4 linked regions of the Homo sapiens genome follow. The protein of the gene in region 1 purifies or fractionates together with the protein of each later gene. This does not show direct contact. Each region holds a gene or a part of one and is shown in the gene's direction. Other genes may lie near its edges.

Region 1 (3,500 bases):
GCCTTCCGCCAGATGAAGCTTTGGCCCTCAGTGGGCTCCCTGGCCCAGCCAGCCAGGAACTGGCTCCTTTGCCTCTGCTACTGAGGCAGGGGAGTAGTGGAGAGCGGGTGGGTGGGTGTGAAGGGATGAGAATAATTCTTTCCATGCCACGAGATCAACACACACTCCCACCCTTGGGGTAGTAGTGTGTTGTAGTCGTACTTACCAAGCTGAGCAACCTCTTCAGCTGGGAAGGCCGCAAGAGGCATAGAGGGAGAGGAAGCACACTGCAGGGCTGCTGTGGCCCAGTCGTCCGCTCAGCCAAGGAGTCAGATGGCAATGGGTACTCCAGCAGGTAGGGGCACAGTGAATGTGTGTATGTATGAAGGCCACATCAACTTTATGTAGCAAAGGGCTTGGTGGCCAAGCCTGGCCCTTAAACAACTGCAGAAAGCCCTTCAACTTCAGAAGGCCTCACTCAAGCCTGAGAGAAGTTGGGAGGGTGGTGGGGACAGGTAAGTGGCAGGACCCTGTCAGGATTGCAGGTGCCTGGCTTGCTGTGGCTATGGGAATCAGCTGGTGGCTAGGTTTCTAGCGCATTTGATTTCTCCAGGTTTGCTGTGTCTCACAGAGGCAGTAGGAACCCAGCTCTCAGGGCTGTCTTGGTGGATGGGCCCTGCAAGACACAGGCTCAGCATGCAGAAGTGCATGAACAGGGTCCCTGGATCAGGGTTGTTCTGGGAGTCCTGTCAGCTTCCCCAGGAGCTCTCTGCTGAGCAGCCCAGCACAACCCCCAGGAAACACAAATGGGGTCCAGGTCACCAGCCTGACTGCACACAGCTAGGCATGCCTGGGAATCCTGCTGCCAGAGAACCATTCCCAAGCCATGGCATGCTCCTTGAAGAATCTCTCCTCTCTCTCTCTCTCTGGAAAGACCCAACTTTCTCACTGCTGTCAGCCAAGTCATGGTTGGTAACCATGTAGGTTCTTGGGAGGGAATGGGACAGGGTGAATAAAGCAGGGAATATTTTAGAACCACAAGAGATCAGCAGTGGCAGGACCCTTAGGAATCTAGTACAACCTTGTTGCTTTAGGTGAGTCACACTCAGAAAATGGGGCTTGCCCTGGGTCACCTAGCTGGTTAATGGCAGCATTCAGAACTTCAAGTTCTCTTGATTTCTTTGTTCCCACTGTCCCCCAAGAAACTAGTATCTCTGGCCTCCTGGGGGCCCATTCTGCATGCCCTCCCCACTTCCCCCGATTCAGAGACTTAGAAGCATCAGAGTTGATAAATTAGATTGAAACCATTCCAGTAGGAAATCAGGCAGTTCCCTGTTGAAAGTTGTCTGGCTTTTTGCACGTGAGTATGATCCAGGATTGGCCTGTGTCTGGCCCCTCCGCGAGGGCTACTCAGCAGTAAGCAGGCCTTAGTACGGCTGCTGCACACTTCTCGGTCTAGGTGGGAGAGAGTGCATAAAGGTTCTGGGGCTGGGCCTGAGCCTAACTCCCTCCACTACCGCTATTTCTCCTTGGATGGCACCATCCACCCTGCAGGCTTGGGAACTGTAAGCTCAAGCTTTTGCTCATTTGTCATTTACCCTGGTGGAGGCTTCTTGCCCAGATAGAGATCTGAAATTGGTGGGAAGCAAGCAGGGGTCGTACCTTGCTTTAGAGTAGATGTTTGGAAAAGCTAAGTAGAAATTTTTTAAAATAGAAGTTGTATTTTAAACGTGTTAGGCTTTATAGGTGAAGGACTTGTTTTGACTTAAGTAGAAGTAATATGCTCTCATTTCTTTGTAATCTAGATTTTCCTATGTTGAATGCTTAAAGCAAGGCATACCTGTCCTAGCAGGATCTGCCCACACCTCGGCCGTACATCTCTGTGAGAGACCCCCTCCAACGATTAGCTTTTGCAACATGGTCCAGTTTCTAGAGGGCACTAGAACTTTGTGCCAGCGCTGGCGAGATACCATGGTGCCATCCTCCTTTCTATAGTTCCAGTTTAGCCCTTCCCTGCCTTTAAGGAGAAGAGATCTTCATGGTGACATTTGAGATGATGGAAACTAGATCGTCTCTAATGTTAGGTCAAGCTATTTCTCTGGATCTATGATTTTAAGATAGAACAGGCTGGTTCTGAGTTCTGGTGAGACGGAGACCCCGGTGGCAGTGGAAAAATCAGAAGCACAAAGGAAAACTCTTGGCCTCTGCTTTCTCCTGTAGCACAAAGAGGGAGTTGGCTGGATCTTTTGGTGGAGTCAGGAAAGACAGGCTGAGCTTTCTAGCCTAAGTGTGGAGAAGGATAGCCTCAGCCACAAAACTCTGTCAGGCATTGAATGACAAGCATCAGTAGCTGAGTGCACTCCTGGTGATCCTGGTTTTCCTTGACCACTGGCCCTGGGGCCATGGGTGCATGGACTCGTAAAGCTGCTAGGGCCCCTAGAAACCACCTGGGTTCAGCCTCTCCCACAATAAGAGTTCTTGCCCTTCATACCCTCTACCTGGATGGATGGTCTTTGGGCAGGGAATTAATGACAGAATGAGCAGTCCCTAATGGTATTGGGCAGTTGGGAGTGAGTTTAGGCAGCTTCTCTGTAACCGCTTCTGGGGCCACACCCCAAAACTCTACACCCTCTGCCCCAGAACAATTCTGCAGAGTGGTGAAGTTCACTTCCCCAACTCTTCTCCAAGTCTAGCTTTCCTTTCCTTCTGGCTCCAAGGTGCTCTGTGTCCGTCTGTGTATGTGTGTGTCTGTGCGTCTGTGTGTTTATTTGGGGAAAAGGGCAATCAGCAATCAACTGAGGTTTCTTAATTGTGATTATATTCCTGAGAATGAATGAGTAGGAAAGGAATAAGGATGTTGTTATGATCGCCTGTGGATTTTGTCCATTCATCTCATGCTCTCTGAACAGAAGGTATACCTGGGAAGATACCAGCTTTTTCTCTCAGGGTTCTGAGTCAGAGGACACCATCCAAGAATGTTGTTAGCTTTTCAGTTCCCGCTCTGCATTGCCTGAAAAAACTGGTATGTTGCACGTATGCTTTTGGTTGAAATTGAACATACTCTAGTGAATGTGCCTTAAAAATCAAGACACTAGTTCAGAGGAAGCACATAATGTCCAGATCTATGGCGAACACAGGTGTTGGAAGCCAGGACTGTGATAATCAGAAGCTATAAGAGAACTTTCGGAGCCTGCCTCCTTCAGTGACAAGTAGGGCACAAAATTCTAGAAGCAGAAGGTTGTTTTTTTTTTTTTTTCTCCATTCTGAAAATAGCAGGACATTTACCTCTTAAATAAACTTAGCATTTAGAGGTAATTCTAAATTTAACAAGTGACAGGGTTGGTTTCAAAGAAAAAGGTCCATGCTTTGCTTACAATGGAGTCTGCAGTGAGGGGAGATGCTGGGATAGCCATTTCCATGGCTCTGTTATGCAAGCACAAATTTCATCTCCTAGATGGACTTCCTGGTTTTCTCTTACTGCAGTAACACTGGCCTTCCCTTCTCTAATTCCTTACCCCAGC
Region 2 (3,082 bases), on another chromosome or scaffold:
CTGTCCCATTTGTGAACCACAGTCACACTTTATTTTTCTCTTTTTATGGTACTTAACGTTCATACTTTAGCTATTTTGTATTTCCTGTGATATTGGAAGTTCCTTAAAGGTAGGGACTTGGTCTTTATCATTTCTGAGTCTTCACAGTCTTTTTTACATAAAAAGCACACAATACTTGCTGAATTGAAATGAAATTTTAAAGTTTTTCCTTTGCGAATAGACTTAATAATGGGCAAGATTTAGTGATTACCTTCAGAAACCTGACTAAGGCCATGTAAACTTATAGAGAGCTGAGAGTAGCCAGAATCTTCATAAAATATTCCACTATCAGTTCTTGATTGCCGACGAATGAATGGTTGACCTTCATCTTCCCAGCCCATCAGTGGCTGTTGTTCACTTCTCTCCATAGCTTTGGCAAGACAGGCGCAGCAAGGACTGCATTTCTTTATAATATATTGGTTAATTTTAATGTCAAAACACAGCACCAAAACATACAATCCATATATCAAAAGCAGTAAAGCCCCTTCATACCTACAAAAGAGAAATTTGTGTTTTTAAATTAAAAGTGAAAGTCATTTTAGAGTTGATAGCTTTTGGGCAGTATCTATTGAATGATTTTCTAACAAAAGTAGCCATAGAACAATCAAACATTTCTAGATATTTTTTGTTTTGTAGATTTGTCCAGACTTGATTACAGCATTATTATGTTTATTGATAAAAGCTGGACACTTCTGTGTTGTTTTTTTTTTTTTAAAAACAAGATCAACAAACTCGTTTTTACTTGTAGATTCCTTCCAAATGATAGGTATAAAAATGCAAGGAAAATGATAATTGGAGATTTTCAAAATAAATGTAAAATTAATAAATAGTGGTGAACATTTTCTGCCTCAGCTCATTGGCATAATACATTCCCCAACATACATAATAATTATAAAATAATATAGTAACTGTTAAGTTATTTCAACTGTCCAAGTTTTCTGGTATAGGAACTTTGTGTAAAATATTACTCAGATATGGGAGGCTTAGGCTGGGATTTTTCAGTTTGTCATACAGAGCATTTTTAATGATTTGAATGTAGCTGAATTTGGCTTACAGTCACAAGAAAACAAGATGTTCTAAAATATAAAATTATACCCTTGGAACCAAGAACTGTTTCCCTGTACTCTGGCAGTTAGCTAATGCCATCACATTTGAACCTTGCATTTACCTTTTATAGCCAGTGAATCTCTGTCTGCTGTATCTTAAAGAACAGTTCTGATTTCCCTAATGGAGGAAGAATTAGCTTGGATACTCTCACAGTCACTATCCCTTACAGACAACTGCTGAGTTCTAGAAGGATTTCTATTCTACCAACACAGTGTCTTAGGGAGACGGACTAGAGGACAGGATGATTAGTTTAGAAATTATGCTTCTGGCTAGGTTTTAAGTTTCTTGATAGCAGGTATTACGCCGTGCTGCAAGGTTATGGTTCTCCAGATGGACACCATTACATTTTTTTTTTTTCATATTTTTCTGGTGTCCTCTGGAGTTATGCAATGTATATAACCTGTGTAGCTGTGTTTTACATTTCATTATCCCTTATGATATCTAGCATAGTGAGAAGGACCTAGTAGGTGCCTGCTGCTTACTAGTTGAAAAAGTTAGTATCTGTCCACTCAGTCACCACCTTTTTCATTTTCTTGGACCAGCTAGGCACAGAGAGATTGTAAGGAAAGCAAACAATTTTTAATATGAAAAGCTAAGCATTGTTATTTCTTAGAGGAAGGCTATAGTTTCTCCTGAATGAGCATCAGAAGTTTGGAGGAATTTAAAAAGACTTCTTTTACTTCCTCTACCATCCTTCTCCAGTCTTTTGTGGCCATGAACACTTCTAACCAAGGCAAGGTGAGCAGTAACCCAGCAGAAGAAAAAGTCAACTGTTGTGGCTTTAATGGACAACAGGAGTTGGGAAACTTTCTGAATAGGCAGCCAGTGGGGAGAAGGAAAAGTGGTGGTCTCCAGTGACTAGTGAGAGAAAAAAGGAGACTGTGAAGTGATTAAGAAGAAATTGCAAACTAGTGAGAAGAACTCAATCAGCAATTGTGATGAGGTTAACTCACAGACCTGTTGGAATATGGTATAGAAGTGGCAGATTAAGTGACTGAAATAACATTTCTGAAAAAAAATTACTGAACCATCAGAAATTCATAAAATCTCTAATTTTTACATAAGAATTATTTTCAAGCTTACCAGTAAACTTGGTTGTCATATATTATACCAAGAACTGCTGCTGCACTAATTGTGTACGCTGCACAGTCTCTGAATAGGGGCCAACATGATAGTGTTGAGACCTGTAATATGGTAAGTTATTATTTCCATTACATTGTAACTTCTTCAAGTACAATCCTTAGTATAATACTAAAATTGTTTATATATTTGTAGTTAAATATTGTTATCTTTTGCATATTGCTTAGAGAAAAAAATGTAAAATTGTGTTCTAACTTACACAGACTTTCATAAATCTGACCAAGAGCTATTTGTGGATTAACATTAAATTGAATACATGTTGTTTTTCTACTGATTAATAAATTTGATTGCACATATTATTAGTGCCCTGTTGTCCATCCCAGACGACGAACAGTTATCTTTAGAATTTTTTAAGACAATACATTTTGTTGAATGGTTTTGTTACATACCGTATTAGATAGCAAACCACAGGCAGCACAGATGCCAAGGAGATTATAAATTGCAGATCCAAGGATGGTGCTAATGCCAATATCTCCCTTTGTGATAAATACACCTATGTGCAAGATAGTACCAGCTAAGTTAGTGTTAACTTGAAGAAAATAAAAATCACACTGAGTAAGCAAGAAGTATAAGGAGCAATATTTACCTAGGAAAGCAGTAACTAATTCAGGAGCTGAACTGCCCGCTGCCATGAAAGTTGTGCCTGCAACATCCTGAGACAATCCAAGGGCTGAACATAAATGAAATGATTGTTATGCCTAATAAAGTGAAAGAGTATGTCTTTACAACTAAACACAATAGATACTCAAAGCTACAGCTTCACATAAAACCACTATTAAACTAGAAAAATAAAATA
Region 3 (3,500 bases), on another chromosome or scaffold:
GAAGCAAGGCTTGCTCCTGTAACACCCATTCTATGGATGCATGCAGTAGAATGGACATTTCTGAAGGCAGCTTGCTCCAGCAAAGAGAAACAGGAGGTGTTAGGGGCTGAGCTAAGCATACACAGCTTCTCTTTGCAGATCATCCTTAATATTTCTGATTATGTCACTTCTTCAGGAAAGTTGTTAAAGAGGAAATAAAGAGATGCTATCAGTCTTGCTAATGGAGTTTTTTCAATGTAGAAGGTAACAAGAGAGGACAGGAAGAAAGAATTCCCCCTCTAATGCTTGGCAGTAGAACATGGTTTGTTATGTTTTAACATGATTTTTCTATATAAATGTTGAGGAAGCCAATTTCTACTCTGGCCACATTAATGATGTTTTTCTTTATTTTGTTATTAAAATTTCCAGTCTCTTTGTATTTTTTTTTCAAGCCCTCCTTATCCCCTCTGCCCTAGTCACTCACCACTTCTAGGTAAAATAGGTAATACAAGTTCTAAATAGTTCATTTGTAACAGCTGAAGATATTTCCGTTGTGAATGTCAGAAACCCAACTCAAACGCTTTAAGCATGAAAGGGAGTCTATTGCCACACAGTTTGAAAAAGCCGGGAGGTGCCTGGCTTGATCCAGAGTCTCAAAGGACAGCACAGATGATTCTCTTCATTTGGTAATTGTCTTCTGGGTTGCTAGTCCTCTGATCCCTCTGATTTTCTTATAGCCTCTAGGGACTCAAAGCTTTCTTCTTACCCCTCCAGCAGTCCTTGCTTGCAAAGAATCCTCTTTCCTAAGTGTACCAGCAAGAGCTCTGGAACTGAGTGTGGCCGGGATGGCTTGGGTTGTTGCCAGTTCTAAGGGTGGTCCCTAAATCAGCCACAAGAGCATCACTGTGAAACTTGTTAGAAATGCAGATTCTCAGGCCTCACCCCAGACTTTTGAATTCTAAACTCTGAGGGCCTAAGCCCCCCAGGTGATTCTGATACACCCTAAAGTGTAATGACCGCTTTTTAAGTCTGTAGTCCAAAGTCTGTGACAGTTAGGGGGGTAAAGTACATTGAGTGGTCTAGGCTGAGTAGCTTGATTAGGGTCAACTTTATCCAGTCCAGGTGGTTGAAAGGTCAAGAGGGGTGGGTAGCTTCCTAAAGAAAAATTACGTGTTATTATAAGATAAAGTAACAGTTGCTGGGCAGGTAAACTCAACTGATAAGTCTATAATAGAATCCTTCCCACGAGTACTAAGTGGAGAGTTATTACGAGAAAAAATACTTGGTAGTGATGCCCAAGACTTGTGTGTTGTGTCTTTACAAGGGTCAGAGCAACAAAGGCCTTTCTTCTTATAGTGTGTATTAGTGTCCAGTGATTCTCCTGAATGGAGAATATCAATAGTTTTATCCTTTAGCCTGGGTTACTCATGACCTCATATTTCCCCTTATATGATGAGCCGTGCTGAGCAGCTGCGTGACAGCATGTAATTTGGGCAATGCCTGATTGAGGCCAAGTAAGGTATCTACCATATTGAATATTTGGTTTTCTTGAACTCACCCAAGAAAGCTGAATATTCTGTGTGGAAACAGGTTACACCCAAAAAATATACTTGAGGGTGCTGTGATAAATGATGGTAACTTTTCTGTTTGTACCTCATTTACAATTTTCACAGGTACAATGGTGGGAGACCATACCCGTTTGGAGTTCCACAACATTGAAACGGGAATCATGACTGAGAAACGCTACATCTCCGTTGTCCCCTCCAGCTTTATTGGCCATCTGCAGAGCCTCATGTTTAATGGCCTTCTCTACATTGACTTGTGCAAAAATGGTGACATTGATTATTGTGAGCTGAAGGCTCGTTTTGGACTGAGGAACATCATCGCTGACCCTGTCACCTTTAAGACCAAGAGCAGCTACCTGAGCCTTGCCACTCTTCAGGCTTACACCTCCATGCACCTCTTCTTCCAGTTCAAGACCACCTCACCAGATGGCTTCATTCTCTTCAATAGTGGTGATGGCAATGACTTCATTGCAGTCGAGCTTGTCAAGGGGTAAGTAGAAGGGATCACGACTTATGTTGGACACCTTTAATCTACTGAAGCTCTACGTAAAATATGGACATAAAAATAACTTGTCTATTCTACTCCCTACCCTCCATTCCTGACACATTCTCGCATCTTCCTTGATTAAATGGATCCATAAAATTATTAGGTCTGGAAAGGAGAGAGGCTCATGATTTAATTTAAAGGTCTTCCACTAACTCAACACTAACAGACTTTTTCCTATGAAATGTAGCCCTTTAAAACTATTGAAGAAAAGCTTATTTTTGCAAAAGAGGGCTATGATTTGTATTGCATCTAATTCTTGAGTATTACTAACTACAACCACCCAATTTATACCAAAAGATGAAACATAAATATTTTAAATCCTACCATTAGCCCATATATGCAAGTTTTTAGAAGCTGCCCTTTCCTCAAGACATTTTACTACCATGTATTAGAAAATAGTCAAAACAAAAAACCAAAACAAAAACCAAAACAGATTAATGGTTGATGATGAATTTAAAAGTCACCCCCTTATGTTTTGTAGTGTACAACCTGTGCTACTTTGACTCTGGAGAGTATTAGTAGGTAGTGTTAATGAAGTGGACTCGATGAGTATGGAATTATAGTGAAGCATGATAGAATAAAATCTGACTATTCTTGTAACCTCATATCAAGATTTAAATTATTCCTGCATTATGCCAGTTTAGCATGGGGGATTTGAAGCCCACTATGTCAGTTACACACATATAGCCATTAAACCACTTCGGGGATTTTCCAATTATTGTTTTTTTTTTTTTTTCTTCCTAGGTATATACACTACGTTTTTGACCTCGGAAACGGTCCCAATGTGATCAAAGGCAACAGTGACCGCCCCCTGAATGACAACCAGTGGCACAATGTCGTCATCACTCGGGACAATAGTAACACTCATAGCCTGAAAGTGGACACCAAAGTGGTCACTCAGGTTATCAATGGTGCCAAAAATCTGGATTTGAAAGGTAAACCTTGTAAAGAAATTTAGTTTTTAATAGAGCTTTTCTTACAATAGATAGACTATTTCCAGAGGCAAACCACAGGTTCAGAGTGCCATGCATTTTTGATACATCATCCATATCCTGTTTTAACAATGTTGAATTATCCTGTAATGCAATTTTTTCCGTTTTTACTTAGACTACTCATCAAGAAATGGTTCATTTTCTCTGATAACCTCGGGAATGTCATGCTGTGGGGGCTGAGAGATGACAGGATGAGTGTCAAAGTGTGGGAAGGGCCGTAATACAGAGGAAGGAATATAGGCTTTGGAATTTCAGCTGAATCATTTAATGTCTGGTGTCATCAGTAAACTGTCTTAGCCTTGTTCAGCTTACATTTACTTTTCTTTGCAAAATGAGGATAATAATTGTTAGTTTCTGTATAGGTCGTGAGAAGTTTTGATGGCATGTCTGTATATCCCTCAGCATATTATTGGTAAC
Region 4 (3,500 bases), on another chromosome or scaffold:
AGTGAGCCATGATTGTGCCACTGCACTCCAGCCTGGGCAACAGAGTGAGGGCGCTGAAAAAACAAAAAACAAAAAACTCTTAAGCAGATTCTATGTTTATTAAAGAGTTAATGACATGCTGTAATTGTGGTTCTTTTTTTTTTTTCTTTCTTTTTTTTTTTTTTAATTGATCATTCTTGGGTGTTTCTCGCAGAGGGGGATTTGGCAGGGTCATAGGGCAATAGTGGAGGGAAGGTCAGCAGATAAACAAGTGAACAAAGGTCTCTGGTTTTCCTAGGCAGAGGACCCTGCGGCCTTCCGCAGTGTTTGTGTCCCTGGGTACTTGAGATTAGGGAGTGGTGATGACTCTTAACAAGCATGCTGCCTTCAAGCATCTGTTTAACAAAGCACATCTTGCACCGCCCTTAATCCATTTAACCCTGAGTGGACACAGCACATGTTTCAGAGAGCACCGGCTTGGGGGTAAGGTCATAGATCAACAGCATCCCAAGGCAGAAGAATTTTTCTTAGTATAGAACAAAATGGAGTCTCCTATGTCTACTTCTTTCTACACAGACACAGCAACAATCTGATTTCTCTATCTTTTCCCCACATTTCCCCCCTTTCCACTCGACAAAACCGCCATCGTCATCATGGCCCGTTCTCAATGAGCTGTTGGGTACACCTCCCAGACGGGGTGGCGGCCGGGTAGAGGGGCTCCTCACTTCCCAGAAGGGGTGGCCGGGCAGAGGTGCCCCCAACCTCCCGGACGGGGCGGCGGCTGGGCGGAGGCGCCCCCACCTCCCTCCCGGATGGGGCGGCTGGCCGGGCGGGGGCTGCCCCCCGCCTCCCTCCTGGACGGGGCGGCTGCCAGGCGGAGACGCTCCTCACTTCCCAGACGGGGCGGCTGCCGGATGGGGGGGCTCCTCACTTCTCAGACGGGGCGGCTGCCGGGCGGAGGGGCTCCTCACTTCTCAGATGGGGCGGCTGCCGGGCGGAGGGGCTCCTCACTTCTTAGACGGGGCGGCCGGGCAGAGACGCTCCTCACCTCCCAGATGGGGTCGCGGCCGGGCAGAGGCGCTCCTCACATCCCAGACGGGGCGGCAGGGCAGAGGCGCTCCCCACATCTCAGACGATGGGCGGCCGGGCAGAGACACTCCTCACTTCCTAGACGGGATGGCGGCCGGGAAGAGGCGCTCCTCACTTCCCAGACTGGGCAGCCGGGCAGAGGGGCTCCTCACATCCCAGACGATGGGCAGCCAGGCAGAGACGCTCCTCACTTCCCAGACGGGGTGGCGGCCAGGCAGAGGCTGCAATCTTGGCACTTTGGGAGGCCAAGGCAGGCGGCTGGGAGGTGGAGGTTGTAGCTAGCCGAGATCACGCCACTGCACTCCAGCCTGGGCAACATTGAGCACTGAGTGAACGAGACTCCGTCTGCAATCCCGGCACCTCTGGAGGCCGAGGCTGGCAGATCACTCGCGGTTAGGAGCTGGAGACCAGCCTGGCCAACACAGTGAAACCCCGTCCCCACCAAAAAAATACGAAAACCAGTCAGGCGTGGCGGCGCGCGCCTGCAGTCGCAGGCACTCGGCAGGCTGAGGCAGGAGAATCAGGCAGGGAGGTTGCAGTGAGCGGAGATGGCAGCAGTACAGTCCAGCTTCGGCTCGGCATCAGGGGGAGACCGGGGAGGGGGAGGGGGAGGGAGAGGGAGAGGGAGAGGGAGAGGGCAATTGTGGTTCTTGAGATAAGTGTGTGACTTCTCTTTTTTAAGGCGTTGGTACTGGCTGACAGAGCCCACAGTTTCCTAAAGAATACACTGACTCCCACAAATTGCCTTTCTCTGTACATTGAGTTTAGACTTTGCTGTACATTTTGAGCTATGGTGTGGCTGGTGTTGCAGCCTGAGAGCTGACAGCTTGGTGTTGACAGTGTCTTCTGTACAGTAGTGTTGTTTGTCCAACCATTTGTATCTAGCATTTTGTACATCGTTTTTATTTTGTTTTCTTCACAATGAAAATACATGACTGACCAGCTTTATGTCCTATGAATGTCCAAATGAAACTTAAATATTCACCTCTTAGCTGATAATTTCCATCTTGGGCTCAACTGTATTAAATCAGAGACATTTAGTTCTTTTTCTCCATATAATTAATACCACCGCTTCTGTTTTTCTGTTTTCCTCTCACTAAAAATAAATGAGGCAAAATGCAGTAAAATACCCAATGATCATAAGATGTAATTAGAGACTTTATAGTAATTTTTAGCTGGTTAAGATCGAAAGCCCCTTAAGTCTCCTGTTTGAGTTTCCATATGTGATTTGGGAGCTTCTAAGTATGTATTATACTATACAGTAGATGACTGTTATTTAGAGAACAAGAAATAAAAGATGAAAAATCACTAATATAAAAAAGTACTCAGGACGGACATGGTGGCTCATGCCTGTAATCCCAGAACTTTGGGAGGCCGAGGTGGGTGGATTGCTCGAGGCCAGGAGTTCAAGACCAGCCTGGCCAACACAGCGAAACCTGTCTCTACTAAAAATACAAAAATTAGCTGGACATGGTGGCACTGGCCTCCATGCTACTTAGGAGGCTGAGGCAGGACAATTGAGCCCAGGACGCAGAGGTTACAGAGAGTGGGCGGATCACTTGAGGAGTTCAAGACCAGCCTGGCCAACATGGAGAAACCCTGTCTCTATTAAAAAATACAAAAATTAGCTGGGTATGGTGGCGCACGCCTGTAATCCCAGCTACTTGGGAGGCTGTGGCATGAGAATTGCTTGAGCCTGGGCCACACGCCTATAATCCCGGCTACTCAGGCGGCTATGGCACAAGAATTGCTTCAGCTTGGGAGGCAGAGGTTGCAATGAGCTGAGATTGTGCCACTGCACTCCAGCCTAGGTGGCAGAGTGAGACTGTCTGAAAAAAACAAAACAAAATTAAACTTATGTTGGCTGGACACCTGTAATCCTAGCACATGGGAGGCTGAGGCGGGTGGATCACCTGAGGTCAGTAGTTCCAGACCAGCCTGGCCAACATGGCATAACACCGTCGCTACTAAAAATACAAAAATTGGTCAGGCATGGTGGTAGGCGCCTGTAATCCTAGCTACTCGGGAGGCTGAGGCTGGAGAATTGCTTGAACCCGGGAGACAGAGGTTGCAGTGAGCCGAGCACTCCAGCCTGGGCAACAAGAGTGAAACTCCATCTCAGACATAAAGTAATAAAATAAAATAAAAATTGTATAAAATTACCTTCAGGCTATGTATATAAACTGTATATGAAACATAAATGGATTTTGTGTTTAGACTTGGATCTCATCCCCAAGATATCTCATTATACGTATGCAAGTATTTCAAACTCTGAAAAAAACCAGAAATCTGGAACACCTTTCTTTTCTTTCTTTTGTTTTTTTTTTGAGACGGAGTCTCGCTATGTTGCCCAGGCTGGAGTGCAGTGACGCAATCTCAGCTCACTTCAGCCTCTGCCTCCCGGGTTCATGCCATTCTCCTGCCTCAGCCTC

What was found. Proteins that work in one complex are often made in the same cells at the same time.
Region 2: the proteins of TUB (region 1) and MYEF2 purify together in Homo sapiens (affinity purification with mass spectrometry; one large-scale study listed by BioGRID and IntAct). This does not show direct contact.
Region 3: the proteins of TUB (region 1) and NRXN3 purify together in Homo sapiens (affinity purification with mass spectrometry; one large-scale study listed by BioGRID and IntAct). This does not show direct contact.
Region 4: the proteins of TUB (region 1) and RPF2 purify together in Homo sapiens (affinity purification with mass spectrometry; one large-scale study listed by BioGRID and IntAct). This does not show direct contact.

The regions. Positions count from the first base shown.
Region 1 is NC_000011.10:8,101,711-8,105,210, forward strand, and holds part of TUB (tubby protein homolog), read left to right. Parts: 3' UTR 1-1,784; coding exon of another isoform or gene 1,785-1,807; 3' UTR 1,808-3,500. UniProt on the Homo sapiens protein: Functions in signal transduction from heterotrimeric G protein-coupled receptors. Binds to membranes containing phosphatidylinositol 4,5-bisphosphate. Can bind DNA (in vitro). May contribute to the regulation of transcription in the nucleus.
Region 2 is NC_000015.10:48,134,132-48,137,213, reverse strand, and holds the end of MYEF2 (myelin expression factor 2), read left to right. Parts: 3' UTR 1-250; coding exon of another isoform or gene 251-531; 3' UTR 532-2,229; coding exon of another isoform or gene 2,230-2,330; 3' UTR 2,331-2,582; downstream 2,583-3,082. Other genes in the region: SLC24A5 (sodium/potassium/calcium exchanger 5), read right to left, coding at 251-531, 2,230-2,330, 2,676-2,956. UniProt on the Homo sapiens protein: Transcriptional repressor of the myelin basic protein gene (MBP). Binds to the proximal MB1 element 5'-TTGTCC-3' of the MBP promoter. Its binding to MB1 and function are inhibited by PURA.
Region 3 is NC_000014.9:78,964,373-78,967,872, forward strand, and holds part of NRXN3 (neurexin 3), read left to right. Parts: intron 1-1,652; coding exon 1,653-2,034; intron 2,035-2,835; coding exon 2,836-3,026; intron 3,027-3,500. UniProt on the Homo sapiens protein: Neuronal cell surface protein that may be involved in cell recognition and cell adhesion. May mediate intracellular signaling. Functions as part of a trans-synaptic complex by binding to cerebellins and postsynaptic GRID1.
Region 4 is NC_000006.12:111,016,538-111,020,037, forward strand, and holds part of RPF2 (ribosome production factor 2 homolog), read left to right. Parts: intron 1-3,500. UniProt on the Homo sapiens protein: Involved in ribosomal large subunit assembly. May regulate the localization of the 5S RNP/5S ribonucleoprotein particle to the nucleolus.